Homo sapiens: one gene and its partner. The protein of the gene in region 1 purifies or fractionates together with the protein of each later gene. This does not show direct contact. Each region holds a gene or a part of one and is shown in the gene's direction. Other genes may lie near its edges.

Region 1 (5,302 bases):
GGTAGGTGCAGGATTCAAACTTAGGGGTCTGGCTCCCAGCCTGCTCTCATGACCCCTCTGCATTGAGGCTTTTTCTGACCTCCTTCCCTCTGTAGGCAGAGGCCCCCAGTATGGTTGGGCAGGTTGTGAACTGCACAACTCTAGGGAGCACCATTTCCATTGCAGTTTCTGAGACTGGACTGTTTGCGGTGTTGTCTGGCGGATGAGGGTTAGTGTCTCAAGGAAGGGACGCCTTCATACAGAAGTGCTGTATGCACCAGCCCTGACATTATAGCTGCTCTAGAGAGACACTGGACCCCTGTGTACCCTCTGCCCTACAGCTCAGCACAAATCATAGTGCTGCCCTGTCTGCAGCAGGACCCACCAGGAACCAGGCCCAACACTCAACTCCATGCAGGTGATAAGAGCTCATCATTCTTGAATAATTGCCACGTGCTAAGCAGGGCTCTAAACCGTTACTGGTTGCCTTGTACAATCCTCACAGTCCTCAGGAATAGGTCTTTTGTTCTCCCTTTGTCTGGGTAGAGAAACTGAGGCTCAGGGAGCTTGGTGACTTTCCTAGTTTGCCTGGTTGGTAAGTGGCAGAGCTTACTGCCTACAAGGGCTGCATCTTACCCACCGGGTTCCCACATCCCCCACTGTAGTCCCCAGGGCTCTCTGTTGGCTGCTGTTTGGGAGAATGTGGCATGCAGGGGTGAGGCAGGGGGTCTTCTGAGGGCTCAGTTCCCAGGGAAGTTCCTCTCAGGTGCCAGGACCCTGTGGCAGCAGGGAGGGAATTCAGGTGAGGACAGCATGTTGTCCAGCTTGGTTCTATCTCATCTGCCTGTCCTTCCCAGGGTGTCACCATGACCAGAGATCTGTGTGGCCCCACGTCACCACCTGTGGCCTTTGAGATGAGTCTTGGAAGGTGGGCAGGAATGCCAGAGTCTTCATTGGATGAATGAAGAAATTGAGGCCCAGAAAGGACCATTCAGGGCACCCAGTGGGGTGGGAACTGTCAAGGCAGGAGCCTGAGACTCTGTCCCCTGGGCTGTGTGACTTGGCCTCTTTAAACCCTTGCCATGGTCTTGCCAGTCCAATGGGGCTGGCTCATCCTGGTTCCCTGGCCAGTGAGATGCTGGGTGACCCCAGGGCTGCAGCCTGGGAGGCGTGGCACTCTGTGTCTGCAGCTTTCTGCTTACCCCTGCCCTGGGCCAGCTCCTCTGCTCAGAAGCTGTGTGCCCAGCTGCAGCTGGGGGCAGGTGTCCTGCCCAGGAGCACAGGTGTCAGCTTTGACTGCCAGGGCACATTTATCCCATTTCCTCACTGGCACAGGGCCCTGTGACACACACACCCATCCAGGCCTGTACAGGAGGCTGGGGGGCTCTGCTGACTGGGAGTCCAGGTCATCTGCCATTGCCAGGGCAGGGGGCTGTGTCAAGACCTCTGCTCCAGCCTCAGGGGCCCTGTCTTGTCAGTGACCTGGACCAGGCCCTCAGCACCCTGAGCTTCAGTTTCCTCCTCTGACAGGCAGGGCAGTTGGGCTTCACCTAGTCTGGAGATGTGCTGAAAGCACTGCCCTGTGCCTGGTGCCACCACCACTCTGTGATGTGAGTCGGAGTTCCTGTCTCCTCCTGCAGGCCCTCCTGCCACCCCCTGTGCCTTGTCCAGAGCATGTTCTGCTGGGTCCTTCTGCTCTTCCACCCACAGGGTCAGGGCGCCAGGGCATCACCAGCCCTTACCAATTGCTGGGTGGGAACTGCTGCTCTGGGCACCGCCTCTCGCTGGGTGGCCCTGGTCCACAAAGGGGTGTTGGGCCTCGTGTCCCTGTGTGTGTGTGTGTGCGTGAGTACATGGGGGCATGAATTTGTGCCTGTGTGTGTGTGTGTGTGAGTATGTGTGGGCACATATTCGTCCGTGTATGTTTGTGTGCCTGTATGTGTGGGCATGTATTTGTCCGTGTGTGTGTGCGTGCATGCTTTGGGACTGCTCCTTGACAGTGTCTGCCCCCCTAGGGCTGCTTGCTGTGCCCACTCTTGCATTGAAATCCACCTCCTCAGCACCTACCATATACCAGGCATTGGGCTGGTCATGGGAAGACCACCGGGAACCAAGACAAACATGTCCTTTGTCATGGAGCTGACAGTCTAGTGGGACAGACTGACAGTCATCAAAAAGTTGAAGATAATTTAAAATCAAAACAACAGCAAGAATGAGGAGAGAGAGGTGTGTAATGCCACAGGAGCCTAGAATTGGATGCAGTCCTGGAGGGATTTCCTAAGGAAGTGACATTCGAGCTGAGCTCTAAGGAATGGGTAGGAGAGAGCAAGGAGGGGGAGGGAAGAACATTCTAGAAAGAGGGAACAGTATGTGCAAATGGCCTGTGGCAAGAAGGACCAAGGAAAGGTCAATGCAGGTGGAGCACAGAGCGGGATAGTGTGTCGTGGGAGGGGTAGGTGGGGTGGGAGGGACCTGCTGCCAAGCCAGGGGTGGAGAGGGCCTCAAATCCCTGAGGTTGGTGGCAAGCAGTCCAGGCCCTCGATGCAGCTTGGGCTCTTGACTGTCACATGAGTGCCTGCTCCCAGGCCAGCAGGGCCAAGAAAGCGAAATGTCGGGAGCCACCTGAACTCCCAGATACACTTTGCAGGGTCAATCTTTATTTGGGCCTGCCTTAGAGGGCCCAGCTTCCAGCACAGCTGGTTTCAGGAGTGGGTGGACTCAAGTCTGAGGACCTCTCTCCCTGTGCTGCTTCCTCCTCCCAGGCCTCCGTTTCCCCTCCGGATGGGCGGTCCTGTACAGGCCTTCACAGATGCCCCTGTGGAGTTCTGGTCCAGTGGGGTAGATGAGGCCAGGGTGGTGAGAGGCAGCCAGCATCAGGGCCTGAGCGACTGAGTGCACCTGTGGCCTCAGAGACCCCTGCACACTGGGTGGGCTGTGGGAGGGAAGCCCTGGTCCCTGGTAGCATTGGGGTCCTTTCCTGTTGGGAGCTTTTACCAGCTGCTCTGGCAGTTCCCAACAGAGAATGCCCACTGTGCCAGCATGAGCCTTTACTGTAGTTCTTTCCATCTTGGAGGGGTGGCAGGGGCAGCTTGGCACAGTGGCTCACGCCTTTAATCCCAGCACTTTGGGAAGCTGAAGTAGCCTGATCGCTTGAGCCCAGGAGTTTGACACCAGCCTGGGCAACATAGGGAGGCCTGGTCTCTAAAAAAAAATACAAAAACTATCTGGGTGTGGTGGGCACACCTGTAATCCTAGCTACTCTGGAGGCTAAGGAGGATTGATTGAGCCCGGGAGGCTGCAGTGAGCTGTGATGGCGCCACTGCACTCCAGCCTGTCTCAAAAAAAGAAAAAAAAATGGTATTTTGAGAACTGGTATAGCCTTACCGACGTAGATGGGGGACCCTCCCCTAATCCTGTAGAGGCTGCAGGTCTGCGCAGCCACCCTTTGGGTGAGTGCCAGGTGCACGCCTTGCATCCCGGCAACTTCGTGGGGTCGGGGCAGGCAGGGGCAGGCAGGGCCAGGCCTCGCTGACCGCGCCATGTCCCGCAGGTTCTCGCGCTCTGACGAGCTGTCGCGGCACAGGCGCTCGCACTCAGGTGTGAAGCCGTACCAGTGTCCTGTGTGCGAGAAGAAGTTCGCGCGGAGCGACCACCTCTCCAAGCACATCAAGGTGCACCGCTTCCCGCGGAGCAGCCGCTCCGTGCGCTCCGTGAACTGAAAGCGCCCTGAACCCCAGCCTGTCCGTCACCCCGGATCCCCACCCCATCCCCATTTTTTTAAGCAATAATTTATTTGCCTCCTCCAGAGGGACATGGCAATGTTACCAGCCCACCTTCTGAAGCCTGGGAGGTGTGAACCCAGGGCCCGCCAACCGCTGCCTTTCTCGGGAGTACTTAGAGCCTCGAACCCGCGTCCCTGGGGGCTGGGCCCCAGGCGCACGGGGCTGGAGGCAGGCCTTCGTGCCTTCGTGCCTTCGTGCCTTCCCGCGGTGGCCAGGCCTCTGCTGCAGCCGCTGGTTGCAGGCAGAGTTTTGGGGACCTGGCCCTTCTCCCACTGGGCTCCCCCATCCTGGGCCAAGGCCAGAACTTTAGTGCTAGGGGAAGATGAAATGTGCAGTTTTGAAATGTTGGGTTTCCAGAGAGAGTCATGCTGGAGGAGAAGGAAGTAGGCCAGAAGTCCAGGGCTGCACTGTGGTGTGAGGGTGGCTTTGTCTAAGATGCCTGCTCAGCATGATCACCAGAGGGTGTGGGCAGGTCCCTGGAGCCGGGGGGGGGGGGGGGGGGGGGGGGGGGCAGGACCGGGCCGCTGGGCCCTCATGTGGGAGAGAGGTGAAAAGCGTCCCCCACTAGGGGGCTGGCAGTGCATGTGCTTGAGTTAAATGTGCAGGGCAGACAGAGCCAGAAGGGCCTGTACCCAGGGGCTCGTCCCCTCCTCCGGTTTCCCAGACAAATCCAGACACCAGCCTTTAGGGTGGCCTTGGGAGGAGAGGGCCAGGCTGTCCTGGGTGTGAGAGAACTAGATAGAGCCTCCCAACCCTGATTTAGAAATGCATTCCTTATTTTGTCTAGAAATTAATAAATGAACTAGCTTGTTTTGACAGGTTTATTTCACATCCTATGAATGTATGTAAATAAACTGTACATAGGTCCATCCACATAAAATATCTTTTAATAACATATCAACATTTGTGTAAATTTGAAATTTAAAAAAATCTATGAAGCTGGTGTACATATGTTACAATTACGTATATTTTCTTTGGTCCTTCATAAAAATATATTTACTTTGCCAATAAAAAGAAAAAGAACTCACAGCTTTTGGCATTCATGTGCTGTTTTCCTGCTTTGCCGGGATGTGGAGGTGACTCTGGGGCCGAGTCTATGTCTCCACCTTCGCAGAGTTCAGGGAACTCTGTTTTGTATTTGGAGGGATAGAAAGGCCCCTTGGGGTCCAGCCCCGGTCCAGCAGGGTAGGGTTCCCATACAGCTCAGCTCCAGGCCAGCTGCTGAGATTCTGCTCATCCCGGCTCCCTGACCTGGAGCTCCGTAAACCCAAATCCAGCCCACATTCCGACAGCACCTGTGGGAAGCTGCCTCAGGCCTGGCCAGTCCTGCGAGGCTCACCTACTCTGCTATCGGAGACCCTTTCTTGCACTTCCTACCCCCATCCAGTCCACCAAACCTATTACACATGCCCTATATGTTTGCTGTGCCTTGGCAGAGTATTTACCCCCTTAGGAACGTGGCTGTGCCATTTCCTACTGGCGTGGGTAATTGTGAAAGTGTTAGGAATCCTGAGCAGGCAGAGGTGAGACTCGGAGAGGCC
Region 2 (7,879 bases), on another chromosome or scaffold:
GGAGCCTACTCTGCCTCCAGAGTATACCCAGATGCCTCTCTAAATGTGTTCCATGAATACTTAGTTAAGGCAGACATGTGATGACTAAAATTCATGATACTGGGAATTTGGAGAGGAGATGGAAATAACATGGAAGTATTGACAGTTTGAGGTAGAGCACTTAGAAAGTTTCATATGTTGGCTGAGTGGTTATTACACAAGCGTGTGCCTTTGTTCCATGTTTACTTGATTCGGCCAGAAAGCACATTTCCCAAAAGCAAATCCAATACAACTTTGCGCATAATTCTCACTGTCTTAAGTAGGAGCTGGGATGGATGCATTAACCCTTCAAACAATTGCTGCCTATTCCATACCTAAGTGGCTTTGGCTTGGAGATGGCAATATTTCTGCTCCTCATGTCCTGTGTCTCTCTCTGCCCCCAACTTTGTTCTCCTTGTTCTTGGCTCCACAGTTAAGAGACCACAGACCAAATTAGGCTCTGGCTTAATTTGCTGCTTGTTGAGCGCTTCTGAGTCAGGCTCTTTGTTTCCTCTAGGATGGTTTCTTTGCTGTTTAGTAGGTACTGTTTCGTGTTCTTTTATTTCTCAATAAGAGGGCTCTGGTTAGTGGCTGCTATGTGGCTTCTGGAAAATATACAACTCTTGGAGCTCTATTAAGCATCCTCCTTTTTGTCTGTTCCTTTCGTGTGTGCTTTACCTTTCATCATTTGAGGGACTGGATCAAAATATTAGTTGGGATTCTAGAGTTAGGAACTGTTGTACCCATCACCCTTTATAGGTCAGGAAACTGAGCAATCAAAAGTTAAGTTTCTTTTCTGTGTTACAAAGCCAGTAGGCAGGAGCCCCCTAATCTGAAGCCACAGTCACTTTACTACAATGGGTGCCTCTGGGTGATGCATGTCACCGAGTACGGATGTCTCCATTTATCCCTGAGTGAAATTCAGTCACCTCTGTGTTTACACTCTCAGTTTACACTAAGACTCTGTGTTTATACCTCTTGTGTTTACAACTGAGACACACGGGACAGCGCAACTTGAGAATTAACATCATAGAAGGTGTCAACTGAAGAATGAGAAAGTTCATGAATTTGGAAAGGAGAGCTTTATTTTTCATAAAGCGTGGCCACTGGCAGGGTAGCCATTGCTACAGTCTGGAAAGTGTAGCCTCCAGCCAGAAACCAGAAACACACTTCCAGGTTGGGAAAAATAAGACAGGAATTTATGCTGAGTGGAGTGGCCAAATACACAGTAAACTATAGGAGGAGTCATGAATATTTATGAAAGATGTACATGTGCAATTAAGCTTCATGACTCTTGATGGGTTACATGTACAAAAAAATGGTATTAGCATGATTCTGGGGTGGAGTTTTTGGCCCTCTTGGGTCAAAAGGTGAAGCAGAGGACACAACTCTCATGGTACATCTTCTATAGACTAGCCAGAGCCACTCCATGGTCCATTGTCTCTTAGGAAGGAATGCTGGTTGCTTGGTTTGTTGAAACCTTAAAAGGAAGGGGCAGCATCAAGTGGTTGGTTCATATCAATAGTAGAGGCCAGGTGCAGTGGCTCACACCTGCAGTCCCAGCACTGTGAGGATTCCTTGAGTTTGAGGAGTTCAAGACCAGCTTGGGCAACAGAGCAACACCTCATCTCTACCCAGAACAAAAAAACCACCAGTGCAATGGTACGTGGCTGTAATCCCAGCTACTCTGGAGGCTGAGGTAAGAGGACTGCTTGAGCCCAGGAGGTCAAGGCTGTGGTGAGCTATGATTGTGCCACTATACTTCAGCCTGGGGGATACAGTGAGACCCTCAAAGATAGCAGGGGTGGAGCAAGTCTTTCCCAAAGGGCTGGTTTCTGTTTAACCCTTAAGAAAGAAGGCTGGGTACTGTGGCTCATGCCTGTGACCCCAGCACTTTGGGAGGGTGAGATGGACAGATTGCTTGAGCCCAGGAGCTCAAGACCAGCCTGGGCAACACAAGGAAACCTCATCTCTACCAAAAAAAAAAAAAAAAAAAAAAAAAACCTGGTGTGGTGGCACGTACCTGTAGTTCTAACTACTCGGGAGGCTGAGATGGGAGGATTAATGGAGCCCAGGAGGTCGAGGCAGGTCTTGAGCCAAGGTCACACCACTGTACTCCAGGCTGGGCAACAGAGCAAGCCCCTTTCTCCAAAAAAAAAAAAAAAACTAATGGCTGATAGTGAAGGAGCAGGTATAACAAGCTGTTTCCCGTCTCCCTTCCAGTCATATATGGGAACTCCGCTTTTAAGATTTCTCTGGATAATTTAAGGTCAGGAGTTCGAGACCACCCTGGCCAACATGGTGAAACCCCATCTTTACTAAAAATACGAAAATTAGCCGGGCCTGGTGGTGGGCGCCTGTAATCCCAGTCACTTGGGAGGCTGAGGCATGAAAATCGTTTGAACCTGGGAGGCGGAGGTTGCAGTAAGCTGAGATCCAGCCACTGCACTCCAGCCTGGGCAGTAAAGCGAGACTCAGTCTCAAAAATATTTCTCTGGGGTCCCCTTGGACAAGAGGGGGTCCTTTCAGTCAGTGGAGGACATGGGGTTTTATTTCTGAGGGCATTTACTGTGTGCAAGTTACCAGGCATTGGGCTGCAAAGATGAATAAGGCAAGCTCCTGGGAAGCAAGAAGCTTACATGCCCCTTAGAATGATTGTAATTCATAATAACTTTATTTTTTAAATCCTTGTAAATCTTCACAAAGGAAGGGATGTCATGGATGACAAAAGTAGCTACCCAGCTTTCTGCATAAAAAGCCTCCACCCCTGCTGGTCACCCACTCAGCACTCAGCACTCACCAGGGCCTGCACCACCTGCCTTCCCTCCTGCCCAAGTGCACACCCCGGACAGACTGATTATACATTGATGTGAAGAAGTCTGAAGCAACAGGTATCTTCACTGTATTTATGCTTTCAGTTCTTCATAATCACAGAATGAAAATGTGAAATACCTCCCCCCCCCCCGCCCCCAATTAAAGACATGCCAAATACTTCAGGAACAACCAGGATTGAAATTTGGCTTCTCCAAGGTAAGCCTGATAAGGTCAAAGTATGCTGGTACCTGTTAAACAGCATAAGGGGTACAGGGAGAGGGTTGTCAAAGGTAGAATTTCCACTTTCTTGAGGACCTGGGGTCTGCCCTTGTTGGACATCTCTGGAGCAGCACAGGCCACTCACCCCATTTGACTATACAGCACTTAAAAATGTGGCGAGTCCAAATTGAGATGTGCTTGTGAGTATAGAATACAACAGGATTGGCCAGGCGTGGTGGCTCACGCCTATGATCCCAGCATTTTGGGAGGCTGAGGCGGGTGGATTACCTGAGGTCAGGAGTTTGAGACCAGCCTGGCCAACATGGCAAAACCCTGTCTTTACTAAAAATACAAAAATTAGCCGGGCATGGTGGTGTGCACCTGTGATCCCAGCTACTCGGGAGGCTGAGGCAGGAGAACCATTTGAACCTGGGAGGCAGAGGTTGCAGTGAGCCAAGATCATGCCATTGCACTCCAGCCTGGGCAACAGAGTGAGACTCTGTCTCAAACAAAAAAAAAAAAAAAAAAAACAAAAAAACAGGACTTTGAAGACAGCATAAAACATCTTTATTGATTACATGTTGAGATAATGTTCCGGATGTTTAGGTTAATACTGAAATCCAGCTTGCTGTTTCTTTTCACTTTTTATTAAATGTGACCACTAGAACATTTAAAATTACACACGTGGCTTGGTCAGTATTTCTCTGGGGCAATGCTGATCTAGAGGCAGAGACCATCCCTCCCCAGCAGTTAGACCTCAAGACTAACTGCTGTCCCCTGTGGGGATGATGTGGTGGTACATTATGTCTGCTGCTCTGGTGTGGCCCTGTTTTTATTTTTGGGTGCTCAGTAAATGTTACTGGGAGAAATGAATTACAGGAAAAATGAGTCCTTTCCTAGCCTCCTTCAATGAGGTTTGCAACATTAAAGTCACCACGGGCCACTTTCACTGGAAGCTGTCAGTGTCGGAGGTTTGGAAATTAACTGAGAACTACAGACAGGAAAGGTGTAAAGCAAATTATTTTCCTATCAGATTGACATTTACAAGAATAATGGGAAGGAGCATGGAAAAGAGGAAGCAGGTCAACCTTCCTTGAGGACAATTAGATAATAGGCATCAAAAGTCTTAAGTTGTATAAAACCTGTATCCTAGAAATTTACCTTTTCGTAGTTTATTCTAAGGAATTAATTGGACAAAAGCACAAAGACATCTAATTGTATTATTAAAATGGAAAGTTTAATATTCAACAATAGCAGATAGGTTAAGTACATTAGGACATTATGAAGTGGCTTAAAACGGACATTCAAAAAAAGGAAATGGAAAACCTGAGTAATGTACAGCTTGTATGGAATGAACTAAAAATATATAAATTTTTGCATAGGTAGAATGACATTGGAAGAACATACACCACAATGTTAACTGATTATCTCTGGGTGTTGGAAAATGATTGATTTATCAACTTTTTTACTGTTATTTCTTTTCTTTTTTTTTTTTTTGCAATGAACAGGCATGCTCTGGCAGTTTTTAAATGAAGTATGGAAATTATGGATTGTGCAGTCATAGTCAACGTTCATTGAGAGCTTACTTTATATAAAGCATCATGCTCAGCATTGTGCTTTGTGGCATTTGATTTTTTAAAAATCAAACGCCCTCCAATCTTAAGCAAGGATGATGGCCAAAAGGTCGGCTTATTACCCAACTGCAACAATAGGAGGGACAGGTAATTAAAAGGCAATTGCCATGACAAATAGAAAAGATGCCAAAGTCAACATTTTTTCAAGGAGCTATAAAGCCCGTGGAGGAGTCAGCTGACGGCACAGTGTTCGCGGCTGCACCGCTCGGAGGCTGGGTGACCCGCGTAGAAGTGAAGTACTTTTTTATTTGCAGACCTGGGCCGATGCCGCTTTAAAAAACGCGAGGGGCTCTATGCACCTCCCTGGCGGTAGTTCCTCCGACCTCAGCCGGGTCGGGTCGTGCCGCCCTCTCCCAGGAGAGACAAACAGGTGTCCCACGTGGCAGCCGCGCCCCGGGCGCCCCTCCTGTGATCCCGTAGCGCCCCCTGGCCCGAGCCGCGCCCGGGTCTGTGAGTAGAGCCGCCCGGGCACCGAGCGCTGGTCGCCGCTCTCCTTCCGGTGAGTCCCAGCCCCGAGTTGGCTCTGGCGCCCGGGTACCCGCCAGTGCCGGCTGCCGATGACCGATTCACGCTCCCGGTACTGGGGCCCCCTCTGCCCAGCCACCCCTACCCAGAGCACCCGGGCTGCGCGGCCCCGCCGAGGGTGCGGGCTTTGTTCGCATTGTCTGCGCGCACCTGAGCGCGGCCTTCCTGGCACGGCGGCGTCGGGGGAAGAGCGCACCTGGCGCGCGCCTCCCTCGTGGCCACTCGCGGTCCGTCCCGGGCGAGCTGGCGGGGTTTTGGGAGGGGTGCGGTCAGCAGGTAAGTGGGTAGGGGCTCCGGGTACAGGGGTGGAGGAGGGCATGTATTAAACCCAAGCTGCCCTCCTGGCACAGTAGCGGGGCCCCCTTCCCTGGCGGCCGCGGAAAGGGACTCGCCCTTTGAATAAAGGCTTTGGTGACATGCTCGCTTCCACCCCACACCCCACTACAGGACATACACAGGTGTTAAGGGGACTTGGGGCAGTTTTCCCAGGCAGAACGAGTGCCCCCAGCGAAGTGTCTGCAAGCAGAACCTGAGAGGGGCCGGCTGCCCCGAGAGTCCTCGCGCTTGGGCAGTGGGAAGTCCAGGGGTTTGTCGTTCTGGTGACTTCCCCCACCTGGCTCAGCCCTGCTTCCTGCATGTCTCCTTCCCTTCCAATAAGGCTAACAAAACTTTCCCTAGCTAAGCCGACCTTTCCCTCCCGCCTTGGGCCCTTGGCCACCTGCTGGGACGGTGAATGGGAGAGTCTCAGAATTGAACCTTGAAAACTTGCTGGGGGCACCAGACAGAAGAGAAGGGAGGAGGGCACCTTGCTGCTTGTGATTGTGGAATCAAGGGCTCCAGCTGAAGCTGAAAGGGGACTTAGCAATGGGGACCTCATGCCATGTGTTTGATGTCTTGGAGATTGGAATAATTAGAACGTGTACATTTTTCAAATTACAAGCTGCTTTAAGTAAAACCCCAGAACCTCTAAGTGTTTTATAAATTCAGTCCCAAAAATTCAAGGTCTCTTTTGCTGTTAAGGTGACACTATATTAAGAAATGTCGATTTATTGAAGAGTCAGAGAAGTGAAGAGGTCAGAAAGGTACCACTAGAGTTGGCAAAAGCCACAGGCATGAATTTGTAAATGCTGCTGGCTTTCAGCAGGCTGAAGCCATCCTCTCTTGTGACTGATGGGGGTTCAGAGCTCCTCAGGCCTTACTCTTCTTTTGTAAAATCCAGCCCAGAGCCATCTCCTAGTAGTGTAAGAATTTCTCAGACTAGGTCCCCAGGCAAATCCCAGGTTGGAGAAGAGGATTGCTTTCCTCATCATCTCTGGCTGAAAACCATCAGTGTATTTTCATTAAATCTGGTTTTTGGTCTACCGTACAGAGATTACAGCCAGTATTTCCCCTCTCTTCAATAGGCACAAGCCCCTGGGATATCCGAATCATAGTCAGAAGCCCATGTTTTTACAGATGAGGAAACTGAGACCCAGTTTTAGAGTGTTAGGTTCAAAGCAAAATTGAGCAGAAGGTACAGGTTTCCCATATACCTCCTGTCCCCGCCTATGCACAGACTCCCCCATTGTCAGCATCCCCCACTGCAGTGGTACATTTGTTCCAACTGATGAACCGACACTGGCACATCATTATGACCCAAAGTTCACAGTTTGCCCTGGGGTTTGCTCCTGTTGTACATTCTATGGCTTTGGACAAATGTAAAATGACATAAATCTGCCATTATAGTATCAAACAGCATAGTTTCACTACCGTAAAAATCTTCTGTGCATCCCACCCTCCCTACAACACATGGTAATCACTGATCTTTCTACTGTCTCAATAGTTTTACCTTTTCCAGAATGTCTTATGATTGGAATCATGTAGTACGTAGCTTTCTCAGATTGGTGTCTTTCGCTCGGTAATATACACTGACATTTCCCCTCCTGGCTTTTTAATGAGCATCATAAAAACAGAATAGTTATTTGGCAGTGACGGCATCATAAGCTTGTGGTGAAAATGCCTTTTTTGTTAATAACTCCCCTGATGTGTGTGCATCTTACAAAGCATTGTCCTCACATCCTCAGTACCTGGAAGGGTACCGGGCACAGGGCAGATGCTTAATAATTTTTACTGGGTAAATGAAATTTCATGTAATTATAGCAATGAGAGGGTCAGCAACACTACGAGGTTGTTTTAGAACAGTGGTCCTCAAACTTTTGCAGTGCATATATCAGTAAATGAAAACCTAGTTTAATTGGGAGGCCTGCAATAGAATTGCTCATTTTTAATTTTATCCAATAAGGCTATTTTAAAACAAATCCCACCCCCCTCCCTATCATCAAGGAGGCTATTGGAAGTCTGTTGGTGATTGTGTGTGTGCATTCCCTGCAAAATGTTTCTGTATAACCCCAAGGCAGCACAGTGGGACAGCTGAATGTATTTGAAGTCCCTTCCTTTGTGTGACCTTTCGTCTTCTAAACAGCTCTGGACTGCTTAATTTTCCTCTTCCACCTACCACATTAGCTGCTGACTTTCCTTGAATGTGATTACTACCCTCGGTCCTCCCCTTCCTTTTCCTGATCATGAGTCTCTTCTCTTGAACTAGATTTCCCTGGTCTCAAATTAGGAAACTTTGCCCTTGCCCCGGGAGCCTTTGCATCGTGGTTTCATGGGGTCCTGGCGACAACCTT

What was found. The genes of interacting proteins can lie anywhere in the genome.
Region 2: the proteins of KLF15 (region 1) and VWA2 purify together in Homo sapiens (affinity purification with mass spectrometry; 2 studies listed by BioGRID and IntAct, with this or other methods). This does not show direct contact.

The regions. Positions count from the first base shown.
Region 1 is NC_000003.12:126,342,123-126,347,424, reverse strand, and holds the end of KLF15 (Krueppel-like factor 15), read left to right. Parts: intron 1-3,529; coding exon 3,530-3,698; 3' UTR 3,699-4,790; downstream 4,791-5,302. UniProt on the Homo sapiens protein: Transcriptional regulator that binds to the GA element of the CLCNKA promoter. Binds to the KCNIP2 promoter and regulates KCNIP2 circadian expression in the heart. Is a repressor of CCN2 expression, involved in the control of cardiac fibrosis.
Region 2 is NC_000010.11:114,234,386-114,242,264, forward strand, and holds the start of VWA2 (von Willebrand factor A domain-containing protein 2 precursor), read left to right. Parts: upstream 1-4,868; 5' UTR 4,869-5,184; intron 5,185-5,228; exon of another isoform or gene 5,229-5,486; intron 5,487-7,390; exon of another isoform or gene 7,391-7,879.